4 separate regions of the Homo sapiens genome follow, and regions 2, 3 and 4 are each linked to region 1. The links come from fine-mapping of genetic effects on plasma protein levels. Region 1 holds a variant in brackets. A gene starts in each other region. All regions are shown on their forward strands. Region 1 overlaps APOE (apolipoprotein E). Region 2 holds the start of PDGFC (platelet derived growth factor C). Region 3 holds the start of LPA (lipoprotein(a)). Region 4 holds the start of ANGPTL3 (angiopoietin like 3).

Evidence for each region. A credible set is the group of variants that fine-mapping cannot tell apart. PIP is the chance, under the fine-mapping model, that this variant and not a neighbour inherited with it causes the effect. Protein levels are from antibody-based Olink assays in UK Biobank. Linkage for the fine-mapping came from a reference panel and not from the study's own genotypes, which makes the PIPs less certain.
Region 2: PDGFC starts here. The variant in region 1 is the best candidate, but not a certain one, in a credible set for the plasma level of the PDGFC protein (UK Biobank, PIP 0.59).
Region 3: LPA starts here. The variant in region 1 is the best candidate, but not a certain one, in a credible set for the plasma level of the LPA protein (UK Biobank, PIP 0.63).
Region 4: ANGPTL3 starts here. The variant in region 1 is the best candidate, but not a certain one, in a credible set for the plasma level of the ANGPTL3 protein (UK Biobank, PIP 0.72).

Annotation. Positions count from the first base shown.
Region 1 is chr19:44,908,887-44,911,499 of GRCh38, forward strand. It overlaps APOE (apolipoprotein E), which reads left to right. Exons shown (of 4, transcript NM_000041.4): 4 at 1-507. The coding sequence ends at 364. Among named protein-coding and RNA genes, the nearest start is that of APOE, 4.4 kb to the left of the region's middle. The variant G/T (reference allele first, on the strand shown) is at 1,090.
Region 2 is chr4:156,969,678-156,973,939 of GRCh38, forward strand. PDGFC (platelet derived growth factor C) reads right to left here and starts at 2,122. Exons shown (of 6, transcript NM_016205.3): 1 at 1,109-2,122. The coding sequence starts at 1,226. RefSeq lists an enhancer at 1,909-2,409.
Region 3 is chr6:160,661,268-160,665,499 of GRCh38, forward strand. LPA (lipoprotein(a)) reads right to left here and starts at 3,008. Exons shown (of 39, transcript NM_005577.4): 1 at 2,899-3,008. The coding sequence starts at 2,947.
Region 4 is chr1:62,595,432-62,599,431 of GRCh38, forward strand. ANGPTL3 (angiopoietin like 3) reads left to right here and starts at 2,089. Exons shown (of 7, transcript NM_014495.4): 1 at 2,089-2,630; 2 at 3,265-3,375. The coding sequence starts at 2,136. All of the region lies in intron 14 of DOCK7 (dedicator of cytokinesis 7), which reads right to left.

The DNA of each region.
Region 1 (2,613 bases):
GCGCCTGGGGCCCCTGGTGGAACAGGGCCGCGTGCGGGCCGCCACTGTGGGCTCCCTGGCCGGCCAGCCGCTACAGGAGCGGGCCCAGGCCTGGGGCGAGCGGCTGCGCGCGCGGATGGAGGAGATGGGCAGCCGGACCCGCGACCGCCTGGACGAGGTGAAGGAGCAGGTGGCGGAGGTGCGCGCCAAGCTGGAGGAGCAGGCCCAGCAGATACGCCTGCAGGCCGAGGCCTTCCAGGCCCGCCTCAAGAGCTGGTTCGAGCCCCTGGTGGAAGACATGCAGCGCCAGTGGGCCGGGCTGGTGGAGAAGGTGCAGGCTGCCGTGGGCACCAGCGCCGCCCCTGTGCCCAGCGACAATCACTGAACGCCGAAGCCTGCAGCCATGCGACCCCACGCCACCCCGTGCCTCCTGCCTCCGCGCAGCCTGCAGCGGGAGACCCTGTCCCCGCCCCAGCCGTCCTCCTGGGGTGGACCCTAGTTTAATAAAGATTCACCAAGTTTCACGCATCTGCTGGCCTCCCCCTGTGATTTCCTCTAAGCCCCAGCCTCAGTTTCTCTTTCTGCCCACATACTGGCCACACAATTCTCAGCCCCCTCCTCTCCATCTGTGTCTGTGTGTATCTTTCTCTCTGCCCTTTTTTTTTTTTTTAGACGGAGTCTGGCTCTGTCACCCAGGCTAGAGTGCAGTGGCACGATCTTGGCTCACTGCAACCTCTGCCTCTTGGGTTCAAGCGATTCTGCTGCCTCAGTAGCTGGGATTACAGGCTCACACCACCACACCCGGCTAATTTTTGTATTTTTAGTAGAGACGAGCTTTCACCATGTTGGCCAGGCAGGTCTCAAACTCCTGACCAAGTGATCCACCCGCCGGCCTCCCAAAGTGCTGAGATTACAGGCCTGAGCCACCATGCCCGGCCTCTGCCCCTCTTTCTTTTTTAGGGGGCAGGGAAAGGTCTCACCCTGTCACCCGCCATCACAGCTCACTGCAGCCTCCACCTCCTGGACTCAAGTGATAAGTGATCCTCCCGCCTCAGCCTTTCCAGTAGCTGAGACTACAGGCGCATACCACTAGGATTAATTTGGGGGGGG[G/T]GGTGGTGTGTGTGGAGATGGGGTCTGGCTTTGTTGGCCAGGCTGATGTGGAATTCCTGGGCTCAAGCGATACTCCCACCTTGGCCTCCTGAGTAGCTGAGACTACTGGCTAGCACCACCACACCCAGCTTTTTATTATTATTTGTAGAGACAAGGTCTCAATATGTTGCCCAGGCTAGTCTCAAACCCCTGGGCTCAAGAGATCCTCCGCCATCGGCCTCCCAAAGTGCTGGGATTCCAGGCATGGGGCTCCGAGCCCGGCCTGCCCAACTTAATAATACTTGTTCCTCAGAGTTGCAACTCCAAATGACCTGAGATTGGTGCCTTTATTCTAAGCTATTTTCATTTTTTTTCTGCTGTCATTATTCTCCCCCTTCTCTCCTCCAGTCTTATCTGATATCTGCCTCCTTCCCACCCACCCTGCACCCCATCCCACCCCTCTGTCTCTCCCTGTTCTCCTCAGGAGACTCTGGCTTCCTGTTTTCCTCCACTTCTATCTTTTATCTCTCCCTCCTACGGTTTCTTTTCTTTCTCCCCGGCCTGCTTGTTTCTCCCCCAACCCCCTTCATCTGGATTTCTTCTTCTGCCATTCAGTTTGGTTTGAGCTCTCTGCTTCTCCGGTTCCCTCTGAGCTAGCTGTCCCTTCACCCACTGTGAACTGGGTTTCCCTGCCCAACCCTCATTCTCTTTCTTTCTTTCTTTTTTTTTTTTTTTTTTTTTTTTTTTTTTTGAGACAGAGTCTTGCTCTGTTGCCCAGCCTGGAGTGCAGTGGTGCAATCTTGGTTCACTGCAACCTCCACTTCCCAGATTCAAGCAATTCTCCTGCCTCAGCCTCCAGAGTAGCTGGGATTACAGGCGTGTCCCACCACACCCGACTAATTTTTGTATTTTTGGTAGAGACAAGGCTTCGGCATTGTTGGCCAGGCAGGTCTCGAACTCCTGACCTCAAGTAATCTGCCTGCCTCACCCTCCCAAAGTGCTGGGATTACAGGCATGAGCCACCTCACCCGGACCATCCCTCATTCTCCATCCTTTCCTCCAGTTGTGATGTCTACCCCTCATGTTTCCCAACAAGCCTACTGGGTGCTGAATCCAGGCTGGGAAGAGAAGGGAGCGGCTCTTCTGTCGGAGTCTGCACCAGGCCCATGCTGAGACGAGAGCTGGCGCTCAGAGAGGGGAAGCTTGGATGGAAGCCCAGGAGCCGCCGGCACTCTCTTCTCCTCCCACCCCCTCAGTTCTCAGAGACGGGGAGGAGGGTTCCCACCAACGGGGGACAGGCTGAGACTTGAGCTTGTATCTCCTGGGCCAGCTGCAACATCTGCTTGTCCCTCTGCCCATCTTGGCTCCTGCACACCCTGAACTTGGTGCTTTCCCTGGCACTGCTCTGATCACCCACGTGGAGGCAGCACCCCTCCCCTGGAGATGACTCACCAGGGCTGAGTGAGGAGGGGAAGGGTCAGTGTGCTCACAGGCAGGGGGCCTGGTCTGCTGGGCCTGCTGCTGATTCACCGTATGTCCAGGAGC
Region 2 (4,262 bases), not on the chromosome of region 1:
GGTATGCCACTTGTGTTCATTTTGCATGGTTAATCAAGTGACAGAATCCTTGCATTCTGAATAGATGATATACAAAGCAGTAAAAACATGTATATTCCTTTTCAAATTACAGTAAGAGCCACCATTTGTAAACAGGGCGTTAAATATTCCAATTTTAGACAGCCTAACATGAACATTGTGGTTTCATGTGCAGTATAAAATTTCTATTTACAAAGTATTCTCAAAAATGACTTCATAATGGTAGATGAAGAGAAAAAGAGTTTAGAAATTGAATGATGTAAATCATATGGGTTCAGAGGCTAAGCAAATTACACACCCTGAAGCTGCCCTGGCTTTATGAAAGGAGCCTTTCTCCAGCTCTGTGCAATCCCAGCCCAAGGGAACTTGCATCTGAGAGTTTTCTAAACATTTCAGGTACACTTGAAAGCTGAAAGTAATTCTCATTTCCTATGCAGGATTAAGTCGTTTCCAGCACACACAAAATAGCAGTCATTCACCAACACATACAAAAACACACCACCAGAAAGGTAAGGACTTCAGAGTACAAAGGCAAGTTTAAAAAACAAAAACTAGGGAGCAAGAGAAATACACTTTTTAATTCCTCTAAAAACGACCACACAGCCTCTTGACCTCTATATTTCCTATCTACTCATTGATTAATTGATGACTTCGACCTAGAGTGCTTCAATTAATGCGGCTGATATATTTCCTGACCGACCCCCCTCGCCCTCCCCAAATCTGAGTAAAGTCAAACATGCCAAGGCTCATTCATTTTGGATTCGTTTTTAGAGGCAGTTCTTGAACTTCTAACTTTAGCAATGAGCGAACCTGCAATGTGCATTTGAAATGACGTTCACAATCGCTCCCAGAATGTCCTCACTCAGCAGTGGCACTCACGTTGCCCTCTTGGAGCTTTGTGGCAGCTCCCGAAGTTGCAAACTACACTTAACCTTTAACAGTCCATGCCAATGAACGCAGCGCACATTTGCATGTAATGAGAGACCAAAGATACCTTCACAGTCTGGTATATATCACATACCAACGCACAATGCCAACGTTAACACACACAGCGAGAAACAAGCAGGGGGAGAATGGGGGAAAGACTCACCGTTCTGTTCCTTGTTGCTGGAAAACTGGAATTTACTACTCAGGTTGGATTCCGCCTGAGTCCCCTGTCTCTGGCCGGCCAGGGCAGATGTCAGCAGGAGAAGCCCGAAGAGGCTCATTTGGCTGACTGGGGTGAGAGCTCACTCACGGCGGGCACTTTGGAAGCAGCGACTCCCGAGTCTCTTTCACCACCGCCAGGGGAAGGCTGCACTGGGGTGGAAGCGCCGAGCCTGCTCTGGCAGCAGAGAATCGCAGGGTAGTTTCCACATAATCCCATCCAAAACTTTTTCCTAGAGCCCTCTTCTGTGTCTCCAGTTTTTGAAAAGGATCAAAGCAAAACCTGGACCTGAACCAGTTTCCCAAGGTTTAAACAAATCCTGAGCTGTGGCGAAGTGGTGGGGGTGGGGGTGAAGGCGAGGGAGGAATGAGGGGGTGGGGACGCGGGGGAGCGGCGAGAAGTCCCCAGCAAGTTGCTGGGAGCACCTGTCAGTTCGGGGGACAGGACAGAGGCGAAAACTCAAGGGTTGCCCGCAGCCAGACTGGAAGCCAAGTCGGCGGCGAGCAGTTTCTGATCAATAACAAAGCTGCCAATAGATGCGGCTCTCCGGGCGCCCCTCTCCCCCGCCCCACCCCCCACCCCCGAAGGGGGAGGGGGAAGAAACAAGGCGAGGGCGCCGCGGCGGGTCCCACGGGCCGGGGCGCCGGAGCGGGGCCGGGGGGCTCCGGGCCGACGGCGGCCCGGGCGCAGGCGGAGAGAGGCCGCGGGGCTCCCGCTCCTCAGCCCGGAGCGCAGTTGGCCCCGGGTTCGGAGCGCCGCAGCACGGATTCCGGCACCTGGCTTGAGTTTTCCGCGACCAAAGTTCACCTTGTTCGGGCTCGTCCCCCGCTCCTCAAAGCCTGGGGCAATTCGGCCGCTCGGGGTCACCGCGGGGCTCCGGTTGTTCCCCGTCCCCTCCCCCCACGCCTCGGGCTCCGCGCTAACCTCGGGGCTACGCGCGGCGTCTCCGCACGGGGTGAAGAGGGAAGGCCGGGGCGGCCGGGAGGATCCGGCTTGTCCCCTCCCCTTCTCTACCTTCCCCCCGCCGGGCGGCAGACAGGAGGTGGGGGCCGTGGGCCGAGCCCGGGCGGAGCGCGCGCCTGGCGAGCGGGGGCGGCTCAGCGGCTCTCCCGCAGGCGGCCGATGGGGCGGGCGGGGGTCAGCGCCTCTGGGAGGGGCAGCCCTGGGACGCGTCCGCGCGAGCGGGCTTGGCCGCCCACTGGCTGTCAACAGGTGCTGCGCAGACAGGGGGTGCTGCGGGACTCGCTGTGGGCAAGACCCCGGTGGCCCAGGAGAGGAACGCGGCCAAGGCGGCCCCTGCTTTCCCTTCCACGGAACACCTCTAACCCCAAATACAGAGCACGATGGGTGGTGAAGGGTGCTGCAGAAGTAAGTGGGAAAGAACTTCCTGCAGCTCTCCTTCTCCCGCCCCCTGTCGCCTGACTTGTCATTAGTTTCCAGGAGGGCTCCCCACTCCCTAAGGTCTTTGCTAGGACCCTTGGCCAGAGTTTCAGAACAGAAGGAAGAAGGGAAATGAATTCAAAGGCTTTCCTCCAATTTCCAGCTCCGTAAAGCAGGACAAATAAAGCAAAAGTAAAGGCAGCCAAAATAACATCCATTTAACAAGTACTATATTTACTGAATGCCTACTATGTCGGGCACTGTTTAGAGGTTGGAGCCGTAGCAGTGAAAACAGACAAAAGTCCCTGCCCTCGTGAAGCATACGTAGTAGTTGGGCAGCATTAAGCTAATAGCAAGCTCTTCTGAGAATGGTGTCTAAGGGACTCAGAATGATCCTGCAACCTTGGACTTTCCTACAATACAGCCTCTAACAAAACTAGGCTGCCCTGAACCCCTGGTGATAGAATTGTTTACATTTACACCAAAAAGGTCGAGAAAGAACTGAAATCTCTTGTGGCTTGTGTTCAGGCTGACTTGGAGAGAGAGGCCGATGCTTTAAGACCTAAAGTTCTCATGAGGTAGTCTGAAATGAAACACACATGCCAAGCAGGGCTTATGGTGGTTCCATGTCTGCTAAATATGTCTGTGACAGGATCCAACGTGCTTTCTTTGTGGAGAAGCAGAAAATCATTGTCAATGTGTTAAAGGCACAAGCAGAGAGTCAGAAAAGTTGAATTTTAAAATGAAGCTATTTTTGAGTAATAATCAAAATGAAAACAAGGAAGTGCCATGGCAGGCAAATCAGCAATATCACCCAACTTCTTGTGGAAAAAAAGTCAATGCAAACAATTCGACCATCAAGAACACTTGGGCTGGAACAGAAAACCAAAATAGCAATGTCCCTGAAACTAAGGAGTGGCATTTGGGCAAGAACATATTCTTACTGGACCAAACCAGGGGCTGATCCTTCTTCAGTGGTGAGGAAAATGCCAAGCCCTCTTCTTATATGCGAACACCAACTGGGGCCAACCAACCAGACCTTTCTGCTTGGAATATCCTAGTCTTCTTGTTTTTCCCTTTTAGAAACCTTTGAAAACTTCACCCATCTGTCTCATTCTTGAAAATTTCACCCGCCTGTCTCATTCATTCATTCTTATCCCTTTACCACTTCTATCTACAGAGTACTAAATATACACTAAAGGCAAATAAGGCCTGATCTTTGACTTTAAGGCATTTACAGTTTAGTGGACAGAAGGTTTTTTATCAAGTATGGTATTTTATTCGAGTTAGCAGCTCCACAACACCAGTGTGACTCCATATTTGCATAATGTGTTCCAAAAATATTTTGTAAATTTGTGAGGGTGAAGGGTTATTCCCAATTTTAATAACATAATGGGACTTAAATAAAGGGCATGCCTTATGAATCCATTGTAATCTATTTTTCATAAAATTCATTATTCTCCAGTTTTTCTAATTTTGTAAGTTTAGTTTTCTAATCAGCACTTTTCTAAATGAAATTGTTATATGTCCATATAGTTGAGTTTCCTGACCACCCACATAGAGGTGGGGTGTGTGTGTGTGTGTGTGTGTGTGTGTGTGTGTGTGTGTCTGCAAATGTAATCCATTTGCTCTCAGGAGATTGGAAGGGTGATGACTACTCTTTATTTTGTATCATTTCATATTGGCTAGAATATTGCTTGGCACAGGGGGATAATAA
Region 3 (4,232 bases), not on the chromosome of region 1:
TGGGGGCCACATGCAGATGGAGTGGGTTAAAGAGTGACTAGAAGAGCAGTGGGGGTGGCAGCAGGAGAGAAGCCTGGCTCTGAAAGCAGCGAGACTTCTAGGGAATACAGGGTCAGGGGAGGTTCTGAAAGATGACACACTGCAGAGAACATGTGTTTGTATGCCGATGACAAGTATCCAGTAGAAAGGCAGATGAACAGATTCTCATTCTCAGAAAGGCCTGTCCTGACCTCCTGAGAGTACACAGACCATGAGGGCAGGGCAAGGAGGAGGATGCACGCTCACTGTTTCATGCAAAGTCCTTGGCCACAGTCCACCTGCTCCCCACCTCTGTGACTTTGTCCTTCCTCAATTTAATATGCTCTATGCTGGAAAACTGGATTATTGAACAGGCATTGGCTGATGCATTCTGAACCTAATCCACTAAAAAGCACTTGATAGATATATCAAAATATCATTGAGAAATAGATATTTTAGGCCCATATCCATGTCTTCACCCCGCACTGTTTCTCATTTGAACTCTCTTTTCCAGGAAGAGTTGTGCTTGGGTAAATTCTATAGCTCACAGTGTGACTTCAAAACACACAATAAATTAATAAGGTGCTTCCTACAGTGAGTTCAGTTAAACATTTTGAAGAGTGTTTTTGAAATGTAGCAGAGCAGGCTACAATTGATATTCAAAAAGAGGAAACTTCCATTTATTTCCCCCTTTAACTAAGTTACCTGTAACTGTGTCATTTTATTATGCTTCATAGAGCATCACTGCTGAGATCCCCTCCCCAGCTCATGTTGCTAGGAAATATCCCAAAACAGAATCAATTTTTCTTTTTTTAACCTGATGATTTTTCCACAATCCTTTTGTTTCTCTGATTCACCTCCAGGGCTCATATGGCAATGGGGATTTAATAGGGTTTATTTGTTGGTGAAGAAACATTAAACAAATCTTTTAATAGGAAAAATACTTTTATATTATAGGCAAAATGTAGATGTATATTGCTACTGAAGTAAATGTATTTTATTAATGGTGTGAGAATTTCTTCCTCACTGTGGTGTGTGAATGTGTATGCATATTTGCATGTGTAAAAGACTTAGCAATTTGTGAATAGAAGATGTTTCTCCGCTTCTCACTGAGCATGGCTGTAAAAGAAACTTTTTCCTCTCCCCGGGCATTCCAGCACACATTGGAAAGATAACACGTCCACAGAAAGCCTGGCTTTCCAAAAGAGCTTATCAGAGAATGTGCCCCCCAGGTCGATTAAAACATATGTTAATCCTGTGGCAGAGAAGTTTGTTCTAGCCTTTGGGTGTAGCCTGCTGAATAAGTTCACAGTGATCTACATCCTAGTTTCCATGGGCTGAAATAGAATATTCATATCCCCTGCACTCCCTACACACACAGACATAGACACCAATTTCCCCAAAAAACTCTTTGCTTAATCTTCTCCTGCTCTGTATTTTCTTTGATATTTTCTTGAATGGCTTCCACTAAATTCAAATGTGTTTGACTTTAAAGTCAACTTGTAAAATTTTATCTGGTAATTTATAGATTAAATTGCAAGCATCTACCTCCCTTTCATCAGACTCTCCCTGCAGGGCAAGTTCATCTAACTATGTATGTGCTTCAAGATGGAACTCCTGAGTTCACAGGTGATTTATAAACCAAAGCATGCCCACTACAAAACTCTCACCCTCCAGAGATTTGCCTCAAGGGACAACACCCTGCTCACAAAGGCACCAGCAGGCAACTGCTCAACTACCTGGTGGATAAGGTGCCCAAGCTAGCATGGACCCCTGAATCCTTGCTCGCCTCCTCTGTTGCCTTTTAAAAGTGCCACTTTCTGCTCCTAAAGTGAAGTAGTACGGCAGGACTGCTGCATTTCTTCCCCTAAGCTAGCTTTGGAAGCAAATCACTTTCTTTATACCAGACTTCTCTCTTCTTAATTGGATTCTGCAAGTGGCAAACAATTAACCTGCTCTTCAGTTACATTGGAATGTGTTTAGATTTATTTTTTCAAATGTTGGAACAAAGATGAAAAAGTGAGAAGAGCCCTAGATTTTTTCTTGGAAATCTGGCTTAAATCCAGGTTTCTTTATTTCCTTGATTTGGGAATTTGGTCACGAGACAAATAACATGATTTTCCTAAGTCTAGATTTCTTTGTTTATAAAATGGGGATGACTATGCTACCCTACCTATACCATGAGCTAAATAAGCTAGTATTTGTAAAGGACACACACTTACATTCACAATCACACACGGTGTGTATGTGTGTATGTATGTATAAAAATGTGGGGACCTAACCCACTCAACAAATACCCTGAGTATTTGTTGAATCATTATATGCGTATATCATCTGGCAAATGGATGTGTATAATTTCTCCAGGGATAAGAAGCAAATGTATACCGATGGAAAGCCTTACTCAGGCCATAACAAAGAGAGAAATGCTGAGTCCCACTCCATGAACAGGTCAAGGAACCAAACATATTCAAAGAGTTATTTCATTGTTTCAACTTGCTAGTGAGGGGAGCATGGCACCTGAACAGAGATGATATAAATTAATGAAACTGAGAACCAAGCGAAGAGCTTAGCCATCCTTTGCATAGTTAGCTACAATGGCTATTTATTTTTCAGCCAGACTGGCCATCATGTAGGCACACTCTTTTAGATTAGAAAAATCAACCATTATTTTTTCTGCCCATTCATTCCAGCACCGTGACAGTCTTCACGGGGAAATTAAACTTATTTTTTTAAGAATTTTTCAATCATATACAAGATTTTGAACTGGGAATTTCATGAATCAAAAATTAAATGAATTGCACATAAAGCCATGGCATATGTATTTTTACTACATTGTGGGAGAAAAAATAATTCTTATAATTTAAAAAAACTATGTCTTACCTGATTTCAGAAATAAAAGAAGTAGAAGAACCACTTCCTTATGTTCCATTTTGGGACTGGCCAGCAGTGCCCAGAAAGTGTGTCCCAATCCCAGGACATTGTTGACTTACATGAGAGTAAACGCACCCACAAACCAGATAGTCAAATTAAGTTAATGATTCTCTCAGAGACCCATGCCACTGGCTCAGCAGGGTTCAAACATTACCTTGAATATAGAGTCTTATAAAATATTTGAGAGTGCAATGTCAATAGATGCTGGGAAGTGGTGAAAGCCATTTCCCCCCTCAGCTGCTCCACATTGCCTTTATGTCTCCTTACTCCTTCCCTCACCCCTAGACCTTCATCTTTCCTGATTAGTCTTGTTTCCTCCCCTCTTCTTTCATTCTCTTTCTTTTGGATAAAATAAAATCATAAAAGTAGCTCATATTTGCTGGTAACTTCCATGACCAGACCCTCTGCCAAGTGCTGCACATCCATAGCCTCCCTCAAGCTTTCCAACAGGCAGTGCTGTACGAGGAGGGGGCTGAGGCCTTCCCGAGGTTGTGTCGCTACCCAGGGGTGCAGCTGATAGACACAACCCTTTCAGGTCTTAGTTTACGAGCAAGCTAGGTATAAATGTTAACATCTCCACATCCTATACCAAACTGTGCCGAAATGACAACATAAGTGAAAATCTTTTATTATCTTCAAAATTTATTTATTCCTAGTGAACTCACATGTTTTCTGTAATTATAAATTATGTTATAAGATATCAATCCTTCCAGGAGGGGGTGGTGGCTCATGCCTATAATCCCAGCATTTTGGGAGGCCACGGCAGATGGATCACCTGAGGCCAGGAGTTTGAGACAAGCCTGGGCAACATGCCAAAACCCTGTCTCTACAAAAAATACAAAAATTAGCTGGGTGTGGAGGCACATGCCAGTCATCCCAGCTACTAAGTAGGCTGAGGCACTAGAATTGCTTGAACACAGGAGATGGAGGTTGCAGTGAGCCAAGAATGTGCCACTGCACTCCAGCCTGGGTGACAGAGCAAGAATGTCTCAGGAAAGAAAAAAAAATAATAAATACCAAATAAAATTAATAAAATATCAATCCTTCCTATTCTAGTAGTTGTGGCTTAAATAAATAAATAAATATTTTTAAAAATAAAACATAGGGTCGAGTGCGGTGGCTCAACTCTGTAATCCCAGCACTTTGGGAGGCCAAGACAGGTGGATCACAAGGTCAGGAGTTTGAGACCAGCCAGGCCAATGTGGTGAAACCCCATCTCTACTAAAAATACAAAAATTAGCCAGGCGTGGTGGTGGGCACCTGTAATCCCAGCTACTAGGGAG
Region 4 (4,000 bases), not on the chromosome of region 1:
AGATGTGAAGTAATTTGACCAAAGGTCACAAAGCTGAAGAATATGAAATCCGGGATTCTGATTCAGGCAGTCTTATTCCAGAATCATGCTCTTAACCACTATGGAATACTGCCTCTACTGTAACTATTATACCCAAAACCCTTAATCCTAAGTCATCAAAAGGAAGAGCCTCTATTTTACACAATGAAGAGGCATTTCTAAGAATAGAAATTTAGGGACGAGCACAGTGGCTTACTCCTTTAATATCAGCACTTTGAGAGGCTGATATGGGAGGTTCACTTGAAGTCAGGAGTTCAAGGTCAGCTTGGGCAACATAGTGAAACACAGTCTCTACAAAATATTTAAAAATTAGCTGGGTGTGGTGGCATGCATCTATAGTCTCAGCTACTTGGGAGACAGAGGGAGGAGGCTTGCTCGAGCCCAGGAGTTCGTGGCTATAGTGAGCTATGATCATGCCACTGCACTCCAGCCTGGACAACAGAGCAAGACCCTGTCTCTAAAAAAGAAAAGAAATTTGGAAATGGTTTATTTTGTATTAACAATTTATAATTTACACTGAAATTTATTATGATAAAACTTTTCCCTGTGTTAAAAAGCTATTAACTTTATGAAAAATTTCTTTTAGGTAAGGTTGATTATATATACCCACACACATACACAGGTTAAAAGTTAGTTTCATGTGACATAATAACTAGCATTTTGAGCACTACCTGTTTGCCCAGCACTGTTCTAAGTGCTCTACATGTATTATTGTTAAATTATCATAACACTATGAATTATGTACTATAATTACCCCAGCTTTACAGATGAGGAGACTAATCCATGGGGAGGTTAAGTAACTTGTCCAAGGCCAGACAGCTAGAGCCGGCTTTTGGACCCACACCACAGTCTGACTCCAGCACCCATATTCTTAACAATTTCACCATATTAATATGTCAAGATTAAGCAGTTTTAAAGGATGCTATTTTCTCACAAATTTCTTAATATGAACACTCAATAAGAATAATCACTAATATAAGCATTTAGTATTTTTTTAACACTAAGTTGGAAGCATAGTGGAACATTTATTTTTAGAAATATTATTAATTGGCTGGGCTCACGCTTGTAATCGGCTGGGCTCATGCCTGTAAATTTTGGGAGGCCAAGGTAAAAGAATTGCTTGAGCCCAGTATTTCCAGACCAGCATGGGCAATACATTAAGACATCATCTTTAAAAAAAAAATGTTATTAATCTCCTCTTTTTGTTAAATGTATATTATCAAAATTGTTACTAAGCTAACAAACTTCAGAAAAACTTATGATGGGCAAGCTGCTTGTGACATTGAAGGTATTTAAGATTCAATTCTAGTTTGGTCCTAGATGACCACATATCCATTGTTCCTTCAACGAGCACATGGTAAAGAGCCTAGAACACAGAGACACAGAACACAGTGGAGAAAAGGGAGTGAAATGTCTTTAATGACACTTACTATATATGGGATTTTGTGACAATATACAAGGATGGTTAAGACATATAAGGTGATGCAAAAAAACATATTAACAATTATAGTGACAAAAAATGAGGAGCATATAATTATACATTGATTTATACAGAGTACCAGAGGAACACAGCATTGAGAGCCGTAACACCACCTGAGGGAGTGGAGAAAGGCTTCAGAGAGAAAGTGTTTTTTGGAATGGATCACTGTTTCCAAAAGAACTAAAGTACAGTTTGAGAAATGCATACTTAATTCATTACTTTTTTCCCCTCAACTTTAATAATAAATTTACCCAACAAAAAAGTTTATTTTTGACTTGTAAATCTCTTAAAATCATAAAAAAGTAAAATTAGCTTTTAAAAACAGGTAGTCACCATAGCATTGAATGTGTAGTTTATAATACAGCAAAGTTAAATACAATTTCAAATTACCTATTAAGTTAGTTGCTCATTTCTTTGATTTCATTTAGCATTGATCTAACTCAATGTGGAAGAAGGTTACATTCGTGCAAGTTAACACGGCTTAATGATTAACTATGTTCACCTACCAACCTTACCTTTTCTGGGCAAATATTGGTATATATAGAGTTAAGAAGTCTAGGTCTGCTTCCAGAAGAAAACAGTTCCACGTTGCTTGAAATTGAAAATCAAGATAAAAATGTTCACAATTAAGCTCCTTCTTTTTATTGTTCCTCTAGTTATTTCCTCCAGAATTGATCAAGACAATTCATCATTTGATTCTCTATCTCCAGAGCCAAAATCAAGATTTGCTATGTTAGACGATGTAAAAATTTTAGCCAATGGCCTCCTTCAGTTGGGACATGGTCTTAAAGACTTTGTCCATAAGACGAAGGGCCAAATTAATGACATATTTCAAAAACTCAACATATTTGATCAGTCTTTTTATGATCTATCGCTGCAAACCAGTGAAATCAAAGAAGAAGAAAAGGAACTGAGAAGAACTACATATAAACTACAAGTCAAAAATGAAGAGGTAAAGAATATGTCACTTGAACTCAACTCAAAACTTGAAAGCCTCCTAGAAGAAAAAATTCTACTTCAACAAAAAGTGAAATATTTAGAAGAGCAACTAACTAACTTAATTCAAAATCAACCTGAAACTCCAGAACACCCAGAAGTAACTTCACTTAAAGTAAGTAGAAAATAAAGAGGGTTCATGTTTATGTTTTCAATGTGGATCTTTTAAAAAAAATATTTCTAAGGCATGCCATTTGAAATACTTTGTTGCATTGTTGAAATACTTTTTTTTCCAAGAAAAATAATCTCCAGAAAATAAAATTTCCTATTATAATTTCAAGTTAGTTTTTTGTTTCCCTAATGTTATATATGAAAACACTGAAAATTTGCATTTTATATGAAAATTACAAATCGGTTAAATTATACAATCTAGAACACTATGTCATTACACTATTGTAAATTACTGAAGGTAAGTAAAAAGTTAAAAAAAATTTAAAACTATTCTCCAGTGTTTAAAACAGATTAAATAATACAGTAAATGGAAAAGATTTATTCATATGAAAATATGCTGGGCTTTTTCTTTTAATTGAAGTTCAGAAAATCAAATTTTAGAGATAGTACAATTTAAATAAAATGTTAAGGACAAAAATATGTGCTATTTGAAAGAAGCATACAAGGGGAAGGAATTGCCAATATTCATTTTTCAAATCCATTATTAGTTTAAAAATTTAGATTATGATAGTGTTACAGGAAATTAATAGAAAAGAAAGAGGAAAGCAACTTATAACCAACCTACTCTCTATATCCAGACTTTTGTAGAAAAACAAGATAATAGCATCAAAGACCTTCTCCAGACCGTGGAAGACCAATATAAACAATTAAACCAACAGCATAGTCAAATAAAAGAAATAGAAAATCAGGTAAGTCAGTATTTTAATGGTATGTCCCATCTTTCACACAGGTCTGTAAAAACACTGAATCCTAAAATTATTTACAAGCTTTAACTGGATCATGAGTAAAATTATCACATCAGCATAACTGTTAAAATTGCAGGCTCTGAAGCTAATAAACTACCTGCATTTAAACCATGGCTCTAAAACTTTGTGTGACCTTGAATAAATTACTTCACCCCTTTATCTCTCAGTTTCCTCACATATACTACAAAGATAATAACAGAACTTATAGGATTATTGTAAGAAAAAAAATTAATTCATAGCAGCCAATGTCATCTTACTAAAATTCAAATTAGATCATGTTTCTCTTTGCTCAAAACCACACAATAGCTTTCCATTTCACTCATATTGGCTCTTTAGACCAAGATTACCCAACCCTTCGTCATCTCACTGACTTCACCTCCTCTACTCTAGTTATTCTGACCGCTTTACCAGTATTCAAACACATCAAACATACTGCCACCTCAAAGCCTTTGCCCTTGTTGTTTCCTCTAACTGGAACGCTCTTCTGCCCTGGTATCTACGTGGCCCACTCTCTGATTTCCCTTAGGGTCGTTATCAAACAAAAAATTCCCAATGAAGACTTACAAGG